2 separate regions of the Homo sapiens genome follow, and region 1 is linked to region 2. A link means that fine-mapping ties the variant in region 2 to the expression of a gene that starts in the linked region. Tissue or cell type: esophagus muscle. Region 2 holds a variant in brackets; the other region holds the start of a gene. All regions are shown on one strand. Distances are between the middles of the regions. Region 1 holds the start of ST6GAL2 (ST6 beta-galactoside alpha-2,6-sialyltransferase 2). Region 2 has its middle 170 kb from the start of ST6GAL2.

Region 1 (8,399 bases), 170 kb after region 2:
CTGGCCTATACACCCTTATCCTTAATTCCCTCATCTCTGCACTTCATCATTCAGAGTCTGGAGAAATCCAATGAGATAATGGATAGAAAAGTCTTTACATAAACTGTGAAGTGCTGTGGTTTGGTGAATGTCTGTAAGCTTGGATATGAACTCAGATTCTTGTGTGCAGCTACCTGATGATGTTTGTCTCTATTGCTGATGAGGTTCTTTGGACTCAGAAAGTTCAAATAACATCACTAAAGGGACAAAGTCAGGACTAAAACCCAGAGATCCAACTTTCAGTTCTGTCTTTTTAATATTGGATAGTGGGCTGCAAGGAGAAGTTTAGGAAAGGATAGTTTCTTTCACATACTGACATGTTTTTCTATTGCTCTGTCTGGTACAGCTCATTGCCAGCTGAGGTCAGGTTGTGGCCCCAGGACCCCGCCTCTGAGGCCAGCCTCTATTTCCTGGACGGCAGCCCACAGACTAGCGCGGGTGTCAGCAAGCCTAAGGGTAACCAGTTGCATTTTGGTTTTATTGTTCCTACTGCAGATACTGAAAATGGCATCATTCCTATATCTGATGCTAAAAAATAATGTTTTTCTCTCCACCTGAAAACACTGACAGAAAGGTAGAAGAAGCTCCTGCTGGCCGAGGATTTTGTCTCCTATACATATGCAAATACCTGAAGCATTTTTTTTCTAATGGTGGTCTATTTCCTTATGAACATTTCCAAAGACAAAGGGAACTACTTTTTTAAAAAAATCTATGGGTTGGCTAGGAAACAAATGTTTCTACCTGATCTTGTCAGTGGATAATGGGTTCCAAAAAGCAAGAATCTGAAATTCTTTTTTTTTTAAATACTGATCGGCCACATGAAAATTCGTTTCACTGATTAAATAGGAGGAGCCCAGATATAGATTTTCCTTTCTGAGGTACTAATTTCTCAAGCAAGGGAAGAAATCAATGTGTTTTTGCAATGCTACAGATGGAAAATCTCAGGTAAATCAGAAAACGAAGGCAACTTGTTTAGAGAAAGTGGTCCTGAAAGTTTCTATCGGTGAGTTTTCCCATCTGTAAAATAATCTATAGTTTTATTGTGAAATTTGAGTGGCATAATGAATGGGAGAAAAATATATTTATATGAACAATAGGTAAGAGAAATAAAATAGCCCAGATTCACCAATGGTGGAGTTAGAAGATATTTATTCTTCATCCCTGTCCCACCTGAATGCTTCTCAGCTGAGTAACTGAGCTTCCTGATTTGGTTGATTGTTCATGATGTGCTTCAAGTTCCTGAAACAGGAAGGAATTGTCCCTGTGAAAGCTCAGCTGGTTAGTTAACACAGGGTGAGAAAAGGAGAATTGAGGAACCCTGAATTTAAAAAAAGAAAGAAAGGAAATTCATATTATTATGAGCAAATGGATAACAGCAAGTGGATTTCTGAATGCTGCCTATCTGTAGGAATAAGTTTATTGTGCTTTGTTGTTATTGATGATTTTGTAAGGAAAATAATATTATAGTGCCAGAGGTACTCAGGAATTCCTCATGAATCTACAGACCAATAAAATAATTAAATAATCTGCTCCTTGTGTCTCTGAGTAATTAAACTAAAGGGTGCCAAAATATTTTATTTACCATTACACTTTGACAGAAGCAATCATCAGCATATAGCTTCCTGTATATAAACTGGCTTTGTGGTTCCTTTGGGAAGCAATAGATTTAAGTCGGTTTAGTGACTGTGTATTTACTACCTTGATCATAAGTAATGAACTCAATCCACTTAAAGTTTTACAACAGTAATTTGCATATTTGCCTTAAGATGGTAGTTTTTCTACTTCTATAAAGTTGACTGTTATTTGGACACTTTTATTTAACTCATTAAAATTTCTTTAAGATATCAACTTTGGCAGTATTTACGCAGAAAGGATAGTAAGTGTATAAGATATATATACACTATAAAAAGTGTACAATTTTTTCTGTTTCAAGGTAAAGTGTTTTAATAATGGCCACTGTCATTTATTAATTACTACAATTTATTAGGTATAACATGTCAGGCACTGGGGGAGATGCTTTTAACACATGCTCTCTACTTACAACAAACCTTGAAGATAGATACTATATAATTTTTTTTTTTTTTTTTTTTTTGAGAGGGAGTCTCTCTCTGTCACCCAGGCTGGAGTGCAGTGGCACCAGCTTGGCTCACTGCAACCTCCGCCTCCCAGGTTCAAGCGATTCTCCTGCCTCAGCCTCTCGAGTAGCTGGGACTACTGGCGCTTGCCACCACGCCCGGTTCATTTTTGTATTTTTAGTAGAGACAGGTTTCAACATTATGGCCAGGCTGGTCTCGAACTCCTGACCTCGTGATCCGCCCGCCTCGGCCTCCCAAAGTACTGGGATTACAGGTGTGAGCCACCGCGCCAGGCTGAAGGTAGGTACTATTACATCCATTATACAGAAGAGAAACAGAAGCCCACAGACTTTGCAACCCCCTCTGCGCCCCTCTACTATTAAGAAGGTGAGTCTTTCTGCAGTATTTCCTTTCTCTATCCCCACCAGCTATGGGTCTCTATCAGGTTGTTTGTTTCTGTTTTGTTTTGGTCACTTTTAACCACACTGTATGTATTTCACATTTATAAAATATAATTTTTCTTTTTTTTTTTTTTTTTTTTTTTTTTTTTTTTGAGACGGAGTCTCGCTCTGTCGCCCAGGCCGGACTGCGGACTGCAGTGGCGCAATCTCGGCTCACTGCAAGCTCCGCTTCCCGGGTTCACGCCATTCTCCTGCCTCAGCCTCCCGAGTAGCTGGGACTACAGGCGCCTGCCACCGCGCCCGGCTAATTTTTTGTATTTTTAGTAGAGACGGGGTTTCACCTTGTTAGCCAGGATGGTCTCGATCTCCTGACCTCATGATCCACCCGCCTCGGCCTCCCAAAGTGCTGGGATTACAGGCGTGAGCCACCGCGCCCGGCCATAATTTTTCTTTTTTTAAAAAATATCTGTGTAACACATTGTTCATTCAGGCAGTTCCGCAGAATTCCATGTGTCAGACATAATTAATACAATTGGGGAAATACTGAGTAAGCGTTTTCGGCCCACACTTTTGTTTGAACACAGTGCATTATACCCACTCGATTTTAGTTTAATTCCCGTGCTGTTTTACATTTCTGTAAACTCTTTGAGGGAGTTCTGGGCGCCCACTGTCTAGCTCAGAGTTCCAGGCTAAGGTAGGCACTAATGAATGCTGAATGAATTGGGTAGCCAGTTAATTGCTTTTTCCCCCCTAAAAAAAAAGTCTAAATTACTTGAATAAAAGTATTTGCGGATTTTTAAATAATACATTTAATGGCAGATCTCTGTCTCCAAAACGTGTGTCCTTCTAGCGACTGAGGGTGTGGGGTGGGGTGAGGGGTGACTAACCAGTCCCCCTGAGATGGGCCCAACCTTAGCAATATTATCCATCTACCTGGGATTCCCCTACACCTGAACAGCTCTTTGGGTCCGCGAGAGAACCAGCGGGGTGGGGCACCCAATGCCAGGAGTGCGCGCGGAGAGACACGCTGAAGTTCACAGGAGAGTATTTACCAGCAAACAAAGGGCGGCGCGGTTTGGGGTCCTAGGACCAGCTGCCGCCGTCTCGAGAAAACGCAAGGGCCGCGGTGACAAGTGGACATTCCGCACGCGACCAGACCGACACTCGATGGGCACCTCCCCGCGGCCCCGCCCGCAGGCTCCAGCTGCCCAGCTCGCAGCCGCCCACTGGCTCCGGAGGCTGCTTCAACCACTTGTCCCGCCGGCTTCTACCCCAAGAACTTTCCGTCCCTCTTGGGGTTGGGGACCGGCAGTGTGGAGGGGCGGGCAGGTGGGGGTCTCCAGGGAGCACCGTCACCGGACTTGGCGAGCTACCCTTCCCAAATGAAAGGTGGCCCGCTCCCAAGTCCATCCCATATCCTTAGAGAAGCTCTGGGAGCGAGGGCCAGGCGGCAGTGCGGAGCCTGGTTGAGCGAGATGAACAAAGGGAGCTAGCGAGCCGGGGAGGATGCTGCGCTCCCCTGCGCCCCACCCAGCCGGCTGCCAGGCGCTGCCAGGCGCGCAGGTAGCCCGGCCTTCCGCGCTGGCGGGGGGAGGTGTTGGACAGGGTACACAAAGACTCACTTCCGCCGGGGCAGGCGCCGGGACTCCCTCCTGGCCGCCCACAGCCTGTGCGCATTCCTGCATTCCTGCCGCCGCCCGGGACCCGAGTGCCCCGGAGGTGTCCAGGCGCGGTGCCAGGCGGGTACTGTGCAGGTAACCTTCGGAAGAACTAGGGCTGGATGGAGGCGGCGGCCGGGGAGAAACACGCCTTTTTAGGCAGCCGTGCTGCCCCGCACCGCCCCACGCAGCCCAAGTCTGCAGTCACTCTCCGCGACAAGCAGAAATCCGCGCGCAGCCAGGGAGCGCCCCGCCTGCGCTCGCCGGCGGGCCGAGCTGCCGGGCCGGGGGCGCGGGGAGGGGGCAGCCCAACTTCCCAGTGCCCGGCTCCCGCCAGCTAGGTGAGCCTGGAGCGGGAAGGATGAAAGGGATCGCGGAGAGGGAGGGGGCTCTGGGGCGAGCGGAGCTCGGGGGCGGGGCGCGGCGCAGCCTCGGTGCGTGGGCCGGGAACCGCCGCCTCTCCCCGGGGCTCGGGGCCGCGGTTCCTCTGGCCGCGGGAGCCGCCGCCGCGCTGCCCGAAACAATGAGGCGTGCAGCGCGGGGCTGAGCGTAGCCTCCCGCCGGCTTTGAGGCCGAGCCACCCGCTGTGCCCCGCCGCCCGCGCTTGCAGCTGCCGCCGGCGCGGAGCAGCGCTGGCCCCGGAGAGGTGATCCCGCAGGCCGCCTGGGACGGGAGCGCGGGGCAGCTCCGAGACCCCACGGTGGCAGGAGGAGGACTCGAGCCTGCGGCAGGACGACTCCCGCCGCGCACTCGCCTTCTGCAGCCCCCAAGTTCCGCGGCGTGAGTCGGGGACCCCGGCCAGGGTCCCAGCTCTAGCGGGCGCCAGCGTGAGTGTGGGAGCGCGTAGCGCGCGCACCCGAGCGGCTGCCGGGGAATAAAATGTGACACGCACGCCTTGGACTCCAGTGCCGCGCTGCCAGGGGGAGCACCGAGCACCACGGTGTCGTGCGCTTCGAGGCGCGGCGTGGGAAGAAGGCTGGTAAGGGAGGGCACTGGGTAAGGGTTGGCGACGCCTTTCTTGGTGGCGCTGCAGCCTCCGCGCTGCTGTGCGCGGAGTTACACTCCGTGTTTAGGAGCGAGACCCGTGTGTGGGGAATGTTGAAGGTGGTTTGGGGAAAAGCAGGAAATTCTGGAGAAGCGAACGGGAGGACGGCTTGCGCTTTGGGGACGGGCGGATACAGTTGTGCCCCTGTGGCTCAGTAAAGGTGATCTTTTATTTTGGCTCTTTTGGCTCTGGAAGGGAGTGAAGATTTTTGTCTTTCTTCAGCCAACCCCCGTACAAAACTGCACTTCTTAAAGGTTAAAGTGTGTTCTGTTCATTTCTGGTTCTCTGTGGCTATAATGTTTGGGGTAGTAGGGATCTTTAGAATCCTAAATACCCGAGTGTTAATTCTTATGTAGTTGGCAGGCGGCAAACTCCGCTTTTGGGTTTACTTTCCGCGGTGTTACGGAGTGGATATTTGATGCATTCTTTTGAGTAGGGAGTGTGACGTCCATCTCATTCGGATTTGCCGGTTCTGTGTTGGGGGACTGAGTGAAGTTAAACTCAATGGCTCCCGCAAGTGCTGCCTTCCAAAGAGCTGAATAGCTGTGTTTGGAGAAGCTGTGCTTTCCAGGAATTTAAATGAGACTTTTTGTGATTGCCTTCCAGGTCTCTCCTCCTAGTACCATATTTGTTTTGTCAGGCTGAACTTTCAAAGCTGTTTTGTAATCTGAGAAGCACTTTTGGGGGGAAAGTAATGCTTGGCTGGATTTTTGTGAACTTATTTTTATTGGACATGCGAAAAATTTGGCGAGAGGCAAACCATATTTGGTTGAAATCATTGTCTTTTGCACCACTGCCGTTCTGACCATAAAGGGGCATGCTGACCCTCCTCGCCGAGGACTGCCTGCTTGGGTGAGGGGGGTCTTTGGTGGGCTGGAAGCACATTTTGTATTTAGAGAACTTTCTGCACACTTGAAAAACCCCATGCTGGTTACTTTGATGCTTCCCTTTTTTGAAATTCTGATCAACATTTTTTGCCAACTTGAAATATAATTTATGACCAAGGAAGAATTCCAATAAAGTGAAGTGCTATATATATATGATGTATATGTATATACATACACATATGTATATATGTGTGTGTGTGTATGTATATATATATATATATATATATATATATGCGCTGCAAATTTAGGGTTAAAACTTTTTTTAAAAGGAAAACTGATGTGTGGCCTTGAACCTGTTTTTACCCACTCTCCTTCCCCCATTATTTTTCTGGAACTGACAACCAAAATTTTTATATACCACTTGAGGAATTTTGTACTAATGCATTAAAAGAAACTGTTGGCAAAGGTGAATGGATATTGTGCTCAAAACTGATGAAAGTCTAAAATAATAGGTGAAGTGCCTTGAATTTTACTGCAAAGTTAAAAAGGCACTCTATCCAATTTTTGCCGCAATAGATACAAATGGTAGCATCTTACATTTTTGCTTGGTGCTGTGAAAGCTTCTGGAGTTTTGAGTTAAATGTCTTGTAGAGATTGTGATAGGAGTCACTGCTTTATATGGAGTACTGAGCTCCACAGTTTAGAGAGGCTTTGGATGGATACTCCTGGAAAGAGTGAGGTCAGAGCAAGGACCAACATTTGGTGAGTTTGCTATGTGGTGCACAGGATCTAGGAAGCAAGGATACAAAATTCAGGATTTTTAGACTAGAGGATTCAAAGTTGAGACAATTTAACATTTGAAAATATGTGAATGATTTATTATGCAGAAGAGGGCAGTTATCTGTGTTGAGTTTCTGATGAGGATAATTAAGAGGGAAAAGGTTTACTCTGTGGGGTGAAGACATAAGTTGAGTCTAGGGAGTTGTGGCCAATCCAGCCAGCAAAGATTAAATAGCGAAGGGACTGCTGAAAAAATTCCTGTACGTGCTTGTTTCTGGAGGTTCCACCCCCCCACCCCCGAGTTTCTCTTCTTTCTGAGATGATTTCAGTGTGTGAGGCTCTGGTCTATTGCTTATACTGATACTGACTGAAATTTTACCCTCCAGGTTTAGAATTTATCCAAGCATTTCTCAAATGATTAAATCTTTTCTGAAAGACAAACTGATTTCTAGGCTTCTGCCACTCCTTCTTAGGTAAATAAATGATAGGTTCCTTTCCAAAAACTTGGAGATATTTGTCCTCTGGGAAGCTCTTAATTAGTTTGCAGATTGCTACCTCATGGGTGAGACTTTGAATAAAAATATCTTATGCATGATAATAAGGACAGTCTTTGTTAATGCATTTGCTCTTTAAATGTATTGTGTTATTCCTGATTGATTGAGTTTTTTCTTTTCCTGGATTTTCTGTAATATGATCTTAAAATTTAATTGCTTAAATTAAATTAAGTACTTAATTCAGCATGCATAAATGTCTAAGGGAATCAGATAGTACCCTCATGGCAGGTGTATGTTAAGCTTTGATTTTCTAAGCATTGAAATCTGAAATCTCATCCCTTAAAAAAAATGGGATGAAATTCCCAAATGACTATAAAAGTAACAATTGCATATAATTATATACTAATTTTGGAAAGTGGAAGGGAAACACAGATGCATATTTGCACAGAAATTTTCAATGTTCTTACACCAATTTTTGATATCAATGCCAAACACTGAATGGGCTGTAGATGACCAGCCACTGTTAGTGGATTACCACATTTTCAGTTTAATATACCTACCATTTTTCCGAAAGCTCTCCTTCCAACTTTTGAGAAATTTCTTTCTAAATGTTATTAAGTACACAATGCGAAGATATCAGTGTTAGAGAAACACGGATTTATTATGCCCCTTACAAAATTTGAAATTTACCCTTGCTTGGTCCCAGCCACCTCCCACCCCTCCCATTGAATTGATAGGGGAACAGTTGCAATTCAAAATACTTGGCATCTACCTAGTCCACAGGTGAAATACATTTAAAGGGGATGAAGTATGACCTGGGCAGTCCTAAGGCTTTGCAGGAGTTGGTGATCTGGTCCAGCTCCAGCATTGGTCCTAGCCCTGGTGAAAGCAGGGTCCCAGCAGTTGTGACTATTATCTTCACTTTGCCACCTGCAGGTTCCTGATTATCCCACAGTACCCAGGGCCTACTGGTTGGTTGGGAGAATTGTTCTGTGTATGGAAATGACATCAGAGGCATGCTGCCCACTGCGGAGGACTTCTATCTGGACGGAACTGTTCTGTGCCATCCTGGCTTCTGCT
Region 2 (8,399 bases):
ATTTTTTTCTTGCAATAAAGCTATATTCCATATGCAAAAATAAATATATGCATATTTAGAGTTAGATATATAGTTTTGTTATTGAATAAAAATTATTTGAAGTATGAAAAAAATCTATTTCCATATTCAAGGCTCCTCACCATTTGGCTACAACCCCCGTGTCCATTTTTTCTCACACCTGAGCCTATCTAAGTATTGATGCTCTATCCACTTACGGGTAGTGAAGGCCCAGGGGCACTGCCACAACCTCCTCACTCTTGTGCCCCATCCGAGACACAGTTCATTTCCCACATTGGTGCCTCTGCACTTTCCTGAACCTTCTTGCCGGCCTCTAGCTTCACCAGCTTCATGACTTGATTGATCCCTCCTATTATAGCAGACATGGTAGCCGAGACCACTCAGAGTTCAATCACCACATCCACTTGTATTTGATCATCAGACATCAGTCCGGCTATACTTAACCTCCAAGTCTGTTTTCTCAACTAAATTTTAAGTTAGACAAGAGCATGTCATACACTTCTTTGCAATTCCCATGGAGTTTGCTTGTAATGCATCTTCAATAAAAATATCATGACTGTTACAAAATTCTGAAAGCCAGAGGGATGGTGAAAATCATCTAAATTAGTGCTTCTTAACCTCTAGTGAGCAACCCTCCTAGCTTAAATCAGGAAGAATTAGAAACCCTGAACAGACGAATAACAAGCAGCAAGATTGAAATGGTAATTAAAAAAAAACTACCACCACCACCAACAACAACAAAGCCCAGGACCAGACAGATTCACAGCTGGATTCTATCAGACATTCAAAGAAGAATTGGTATCAATCCTATTGAAACTATCCCACAAAATAGAAAAAGAGGGAATCCTCTCTAAATCATTCTATGAAGCCAGTATCACTTTAATACCAAAACTAGGAAAGGACATAACAGAAAAAGAAAACTACAGGCCAATATCCCTGATGAACACAGATGCAAAAATCCTAATAAAATACTAGCTAATTGAATCCAACAATATATCAAAAAGATAATCCACCACGATCAAATGGGTTTTATAGCTGGGATACAGGTATGGTTTAACATATGCAAGTCAATACATGTGATACACCACATACACAGAATTAAAAACAAAAATCACACGATCATCTCAATAGATGCAGAAAAAGCATTTGACAAATTACAGCATCTCTTTGTGATTAAAACTCTCAGCAAAATCAGCATACAAGGGACATACCTCAATGTAAAAAAAGCCATCTATGACAAACCCACAGCCAACACAATACTGAAAGGGGAAAAGTTGAAAGGATTGTCTCTGAGAACTGGAACAAGACAAGGATGCCCACTCTCACCACTTCTATTCAACATAGTACTGGAAGTTCTAGCCAGAGCAATCAGACAAGAGAAATAAATAAAGGGCATTCAAATTGGTAAAAAGGAAGTCAAACTGTCACTGTTTGCTGATGATATGATTGTATACCTAGAAAATCCTAAAGACTCCTCCAGAAAGCACCTAGAACTGATGAATGAATTTAGTAAAATTTCAGAATGCAAAATTACGTTATACAAATCAGTAGCTCTGCTATACATCAGCAGCAGCCAAGCTGGGAATCAAATCAAGAACTCAACCCCTTTTACAATAGCTGAAAAAAAAATTAAAATACTTAGGAATATACCTAACCAAGAAGGTGAAAGTCCTCTACAAGGAAAACTACAAAACACTGCTGAAAGAAATCATAGATGATACAAATAAATGAAAACACAACCCATGCTTATGAATAGGTAGAATCAATATTGTGAAAATGACCACACTGCCAAAAGCAGTCTACAAATTCAATGCAATTCCCATCAAGATATCACCATCGATCTTCACAGAACTAGAAAAGACAATTCTAAAATTCATATGGAACCAAAAAGGAACCTCTATAGCCCAAGCGAGACTAAGCAAAAAGAACAAATCTGGTGGCATCATCACATTACCTGCTTTCAAACTATACTATATGGCCATATTCACCAAAACAGCATGGTACTGATATAAAAATAGGCACATAGACCAATGGAGCAGAATAGAGTACCCAGAAATAAACCTAAATACACACAGCCAACAGACCTTCAACAAAGCAAACAAAAACATTAAGTGGGAAAAGGACACCCTATTCAACAAACGGTGCTGGAATAATTGGCAAGCCACATATAGCAGAATGAAACTGGATCCTCATTTCACAGCTTGTAAAAAAACCAACTCAAGATGGGTCAAGGACATAAATCTAAGACCCAAAACTGTAAAAATTCTAGAAAATAACATCAGAAAAATCCTTCTAGACATTGGCTTAGGCAAAGACTTCATGACCAAGAACACAAAAACAAATGCAACAAAAACAAAGATAAATAGTTGGGACTTAATTAAACTGAAGAGCTTCTGCACAGCAAAAGGAAGAGTCAGCAGAGTAAACAGACAACCCACAGAGTGGGAGAAAATCTTCACAATCTATACATTTAACAAAAGACTAATACCCAGAATCTACAAGGAACTCAAATAAATTAGCAAGAAAAAATAAAACAATCCCACCAAAAAGTGGTCTAAGAACATGAATAGACAGTTCTCAAAAGAAGATATACAAATGGCCAATAAACATATGAAAAAATGCTCAACATCACTAATGATCAAGGAAATGCAAATCAAAACCACAGTGCCATACCACCTTTCTCCTGCGAGAATGGCCACAATCAAAAAAAATAAATAAATAGATGTTGGCATGGATGCAGTAAAAAGGGAATGCTTCAACACTGCTAGTGGGAATGTAACCTAGTACAACCACAATGGAAAACAGTGTGGAGATTTTTTAAAGAACCAAACGTAGAACTACTATTTGAATCAGCAATCTCACTACTGGGTATCTACCCAAAGGAAAAGAGGTCATTATATGAAAAAGATGCTTGCACATACATGTTTATAGGAGCACAATTTGCAATTGCAAAAATCTGAAACCAGCCCAAATGCCCATCAATCAATGAGTAAAGAAATTTTATATATCTATATACACATACACACACACACACACACACACACACACACACACATATACACACAATGGAATACTACTCAGCCACAAAAAGGAACGAATTAATGGCATTCGCAGCAAAAATAAAGAGGGAATACTATTCAACCATAAAAAAATGCCTTTTGTAGCAACTTGGATGGAGCTTGAGGCTATTACTCCAAGTGAAGTAACTCAGGAACAGAAAACCAAACATCGTATCTTCTCACTTACAAGGAGAGCTAAGCTATGAGAATACAAAGTCATAAGAATAATACAATGGACTTTGGGGACTCAGAGGAAAGGGTGGCAGGGGGGTGAGGGACAAAAGACTACAAATTGGGTTCAGTGTATACTGCTCGGGTGATAAGCGCACCAAAATCTCACAAACCACCACTGAAGAACTTATTCATGTAACCAAATACCACCTGTTCCCCCAAAACCTATAGAAATAAAACATTTTTAAAAATTTTAATGCAATAACTAGATAATAATGAGAATAATGTATTACATACATGACAGTAAAAGATTTAGATTACGTAGTTTCAAAATAAAATGTAAACTGTGTGTATGTTTGTGTATTGTGAATTAAATAAATTATGCTTTCTGGGAATAATAAAAATAGTATGTATAAAAAAACAAATAAGAGGAGAGAGACTACTCAGTAGATGGTAATGAAAAATATGGAAAAAAAGAATGCTCTACCTCAACTGAACAACTACCCCACCCAATACAATGTGAATCCTAGGAGAGTAAACACATAAAAATGAAATGTAAAATTAATAGAACAAAATGTAGGAGAATATCACTGTGAGTTAGAAAAATTTTAAAAACACAAATATAATAATGCAAAAAAAAGTGCTTCAAAAGAAATAAATTTTAAGGCAAACTTTCTCCTCTTTTATAATGGGGAGACAACAGCATCTTAAGTTGACTGGAACACCAAGGAATTATTTTGAAATATAAAAATCACCACAAAAAAGTTTTAAATCAGGAACACCAAGGTATTATTTTGAAATATAAAAAAGTACCACAAAAAAGTTTTAAACAATCACAAAATTAGTAAACTTTGATTACTGTGGAATGTGGAAATTGAATTCTGGTAATATCCAGAAAGTGTTTCTTTTCATTTGATAACTTTGAATATCCTTTGAATATTGTTACAGTGTACACCAATCACTTCTAAAAGACTTTCCTCCTCCCTCCTTGTGCATAGAAACTTTATCGAGCAGGAGAGAAGGTCATTATGAGTGGAATCTAAAATCAGATCTAGAATCAGGGAGCTTTACTTGTTTTAATCACCTAGAAAAAAAATGCTGTAATAAAAGGTTTTCTTTTTATGCAAAATAGAAAGTTGAATATTCTGTTTATTGATCAGATCAAGACTAATCCGTGTTGGGAAGTCTCTAAGTTAATGAGATCATTTAAGGAAATTTATTTTTGGTCAACCTTTTTTAGAAAGGCCATCACCAAAAATGCTCCCGCCATCCCATCCCCTTTCCAGACATCAATAAGTACCAAGTGGAAAGAGGGAAGGTGGGAAAAAGAGCACTTCTTTTATTTGAATTGTTTCCTTTTATGGGGCTTTGCAGAAAATCCCATGTAACACTTGCATTTCCATCTCCCTGCCCACCACTTTCTTACATTCCTATTTAAAATCTTCCTCCTGGCCAGATAAGTTTCATGTATTCCCAGTATCATCTTGAAATTGTGTTATCTTTAAGAAAGGTGTAAATGTGTAAACCGAAAGGGTGTGAGTATTGATTTAAGTTATTAAGTCTCTACAATTTCTCAGTTACAGAATATTCTTCGAAATCCAAATCCTTAAATTGAGAATTAGACCTAAATAAGTTTATGCCTACAGACTAAGCATCTACTCACTGTGTATAAATTATTTCATTTAATATTTTAATTGATTTATAGAAAAAGAAAGCCCATGGAAATTAATACTTAATGACTATACCTGTGGAACTAAGTCTTCAGGAACCCTCTCGTTCTCTATCTTAGGAATATTTTGTTATGCACACTTTACTATACAGAGACTACTATATGGCTTTAGAA[T/A]TCATATAATGCCCTAAAAGACAGTATTAGTGGATTTCAGGTTACATAACACAGTAGCCCTATCCAGTGCCAACTAAACTTAGCATTATAAAAGAATACCAAACAGGGAGCATAAGAGCTTGCAAGAAAAAGCTTTTTGAAAGTAGCCAGAAGTGATCATCAATGCCCAAAACACAATGTATGTCTTGATCTTGAGAGATGAGCACTGACACACATGTAAATCACACCAGCACAGGTAACTCCCCCATCTGGGAGTTGTCAGCTTAAATACATTGCTAGTTTTGTAGCACTTGGATAGATCAGTATCCTGTTTTTGTTATTTAATGCAGCTAACAGTAAATTACATGTGACCAAATAAACAATCTGGACAACCAGGAATGGCATGCTTAGGAACGTTCTCAGATGAAATCAATAACTAGCAACCCAGCAAGACTCTCATTTATTTCCAGGGGATATATTCCTTCACTTGATATTTCAAAAATGTTGACTAAGGATCAAATTGTTCTTCAGCATCCTGGAGCCACAGGAAGGATTATAGTGCAGCTCTTCAATTCCTTCACAATAAATAACTGGTATTTCAAAATATACATTCTTCCAGACAACTGCACCAGTAAATATAAAACACTGCAGTCAGACTCTGTTCCTAAATAAGATGTTTATGTTATATTCATGTTTGCAATACTTTTACCACAAGAAGTACTACTGTTAAGTGCGTATAATTTTTCTACAATAGTGAACAACAGAGTAAAGTTCCATTAATGTACATGATAGATATATTCCAAGTAAATTATATTTAGTGGAACATTAGAGATTGACGTTCATTGGTTATGTTTTATATCTACTCTCCCCCACCTCTGCCCCATATACTACATGCCTATGGTACTACTTCGGTCATCATGAAAATTTAAAATTTCCCCAGAAATTTAAAAACTACCATCTAGAACTGGGAGAAAGATTAGATAATGATAAGCCAGTTGAGGACCACTTGCCAAAAGTAGTCTATTTACAGCTTTTACAAAGTGGATTTAATTATTATTTCAATTAGCTTTGGGGAGAAACAAACTATAATTTATTAAAAGCCTTTTCATGAATTAAAAAAAGTCAATAAAAAGCCTTTAAAGTTTAGAAAACCAAAAACTACAAAACAAAACAAAAACACAAAGAGTAGACCTCCACTCATGCATTGTCTAGCCCCTATCACAAATCTCCATCGACAATCACTTTAAAAAAAAATGTTTGACACATAATAATTGTACACATTCATGAATACATACCGATGGTGTAACACACGTATACAAATCAGCTGAGGGTAATTGGTATGCCCATCAATTCAAGCATTTATCATTTCTTTGTGTTGGGACCATTCAATGTCCTCTTTCTAGCTATTTGAAACTTAACCTCTGTATTTAGCTACTTATTCTGGTCATTGCATCCATATTTTCAAGTGTTAAGTTTATCATGTTCTTTTACATTTATTAATTTTAAATATTTTATTGAGTTCATAACATGATAAATATTTATTTAGACCTTCACCATACCCTTCTTTAACTTTTCAGATAGTTAACCACTATTTTTAGTTAAATTAATAAAAGTTATTGAGCAATTTTAGTTAAGTCAATAAACAACATTCCTTCACTTATTCCTATATAAATACTGTTCACTATAGAACCTAGTCAGATACAGCTTTTTGTTTTCCCTTGAATTAATAATTGCCTCTTTTTCATTTGCATGTTTCCATTAATCCACTTACTTTTTCTGGATGTTCTATCATCTACTATCTCATCTAATCTATAAAAACTAAATTATCCAGGGGTCCTCTTGTGGTCCTCTCTCCTGCTAAAGGCTGGACTAGCTGCTGTCTAGATCTGTTGCAGTCCAGTGAATTCTCTCCAATCCTCTTTATTTAAAGAAAAATTTCTGGGATTCTTTGTTTTCTACTTTTTACAATTATTATTAAACATTTGTTTAGCTAAAAGAATCCTATGGCTTTCTAAGGAAGGATACAGAAAGGTAAAATTAGAGGCTTTGCATATCTAAAAAAATTATTAATCTGCTTTTTCAGTTAAGTGATAGTTAAGCTAGGTAGCAAATTCTGCTGAAAATTTTTTTTATTTTCCCAACATTGGAAGTTATTCTTCAATTTATTGCTGTTTGGGGTATTCTTATTCCTTTTTTAATTGTCAAGGTTTTTTCAGAATCTTTTCTATTTCTGGTAATTTAAAATATTATCATGATTAGGCATATTGTTCTTTTTTCCCCTAGTGATTCCATTAAATTGATTAGCAACTAATCCTTCATAATCGGAAGAAAAAATTCTATTTAACAAAAGCTTCTAAGGCTATGTATTTTTCCCTGAGTGTAACTTTGACTATATTCCGTATGTGTTCAAATGAAATAGTCTCCTTTTAGATTTTCTGCTTGTTCAGTTATTATTGTTTATTTTGTTTTTTATTTTACTTTAAATTCTGGGTTACATGTGCTGAACGTGTAGGCTTGTTACGTAGGTATACGTGTGCCATGGTGGTTTGCTGCATCTATCAACTCACCATCTAGGTTTTAAGCCTCGCATGCATTTGTCCTAATGCTCTCCCTCCCCTTGCCCCCACCCCCCCTACAGGGCTTGGTATGTGACGTTCCCCTCCCTGTGTCCACATGCTCTCATTGTTCAGCTCCCACTTATGAATGAGAACATGCATTGTTTAGTTTTCTGTTCCTGTGTTAGTTTGCTGAGGATGATGGTTTCCAGCTTCATCCATGACCCTGCAAAGGACATGAACTCATTCTTTTTTATGGCTGCATACATTCCATGGTATATATGCGCCACATTTTCTTTATCTAGTCTATTATTCGTGGGCATTTGGGTTGGTTTCAAGTCTTTGCTATTGTAAATAGTGCTGCAATAAACACACATGTGCATGTTTCTTTATTGTAGAATGATTTATATTCCTTTGGGTATATACCCAGTAATGAGATTGCTGGGTCAAATGGTATTTCTAGTTCTAGATCCTTGAGGAATCACCACACTGACTTCCACAATGGTTGAACTACTTTACACTCCCACCAACAGTGTAAAAGTGTTCCTATGTCTCCACATCCTCACCAGCATCTTTTGTTTCCGGACTTTTTAATGACCGCCATTCTAACTGGCATGAGATGGTATCTCACTGTGGTTTTGATTTGCATTTCTCCAATGACCAGTGATGATGAGCTTTTTCTAATATGTTTGTTGGCTGCGTAAATGTCGTCTTTTGAGAAGTGTGTGTTCATATCTTTTGCCTACTTTTTGATGGGGTTGTTTGATTCTCTCT

Evidence for each region.
Region 1: it holds the start of ST6GAL2, and the variant in region 2 is fine-mapped to the expression of ST6GAL2 in esophagus muscle (GTEx, PIP 0.97).

The regions. Positions count from the first base shown.
Region 1 is chr2:106,882,846-106,891,244 of GRCh38, reverse strand. It overlaps ST6GAL2 (ST6 beta-galactoside alpha-2,6-sialyltransferase 2), which reads left to right and starts at 5,078. Exons shown (of 6, transcript NM_001142351.2): 1 at 5,078-5,152. LOC124907864 (a long non-coding RNA gene) reads right to left here and starts at 4,712. Exons shown (of 2, transcript XR_007087169.1): 1 at 4,138-4,712.
Region 2 is chr2:107,052,969-107,061,367 of GRCh38, reverse strand. No RefSeq gene overlaps it. Among named protein-coding and RNA genes, the nearest start is that of ST6GAL2, 170 kb to the right of the region's middle. The variant T/A (reference allele first, on the strand shown) is at 5,092.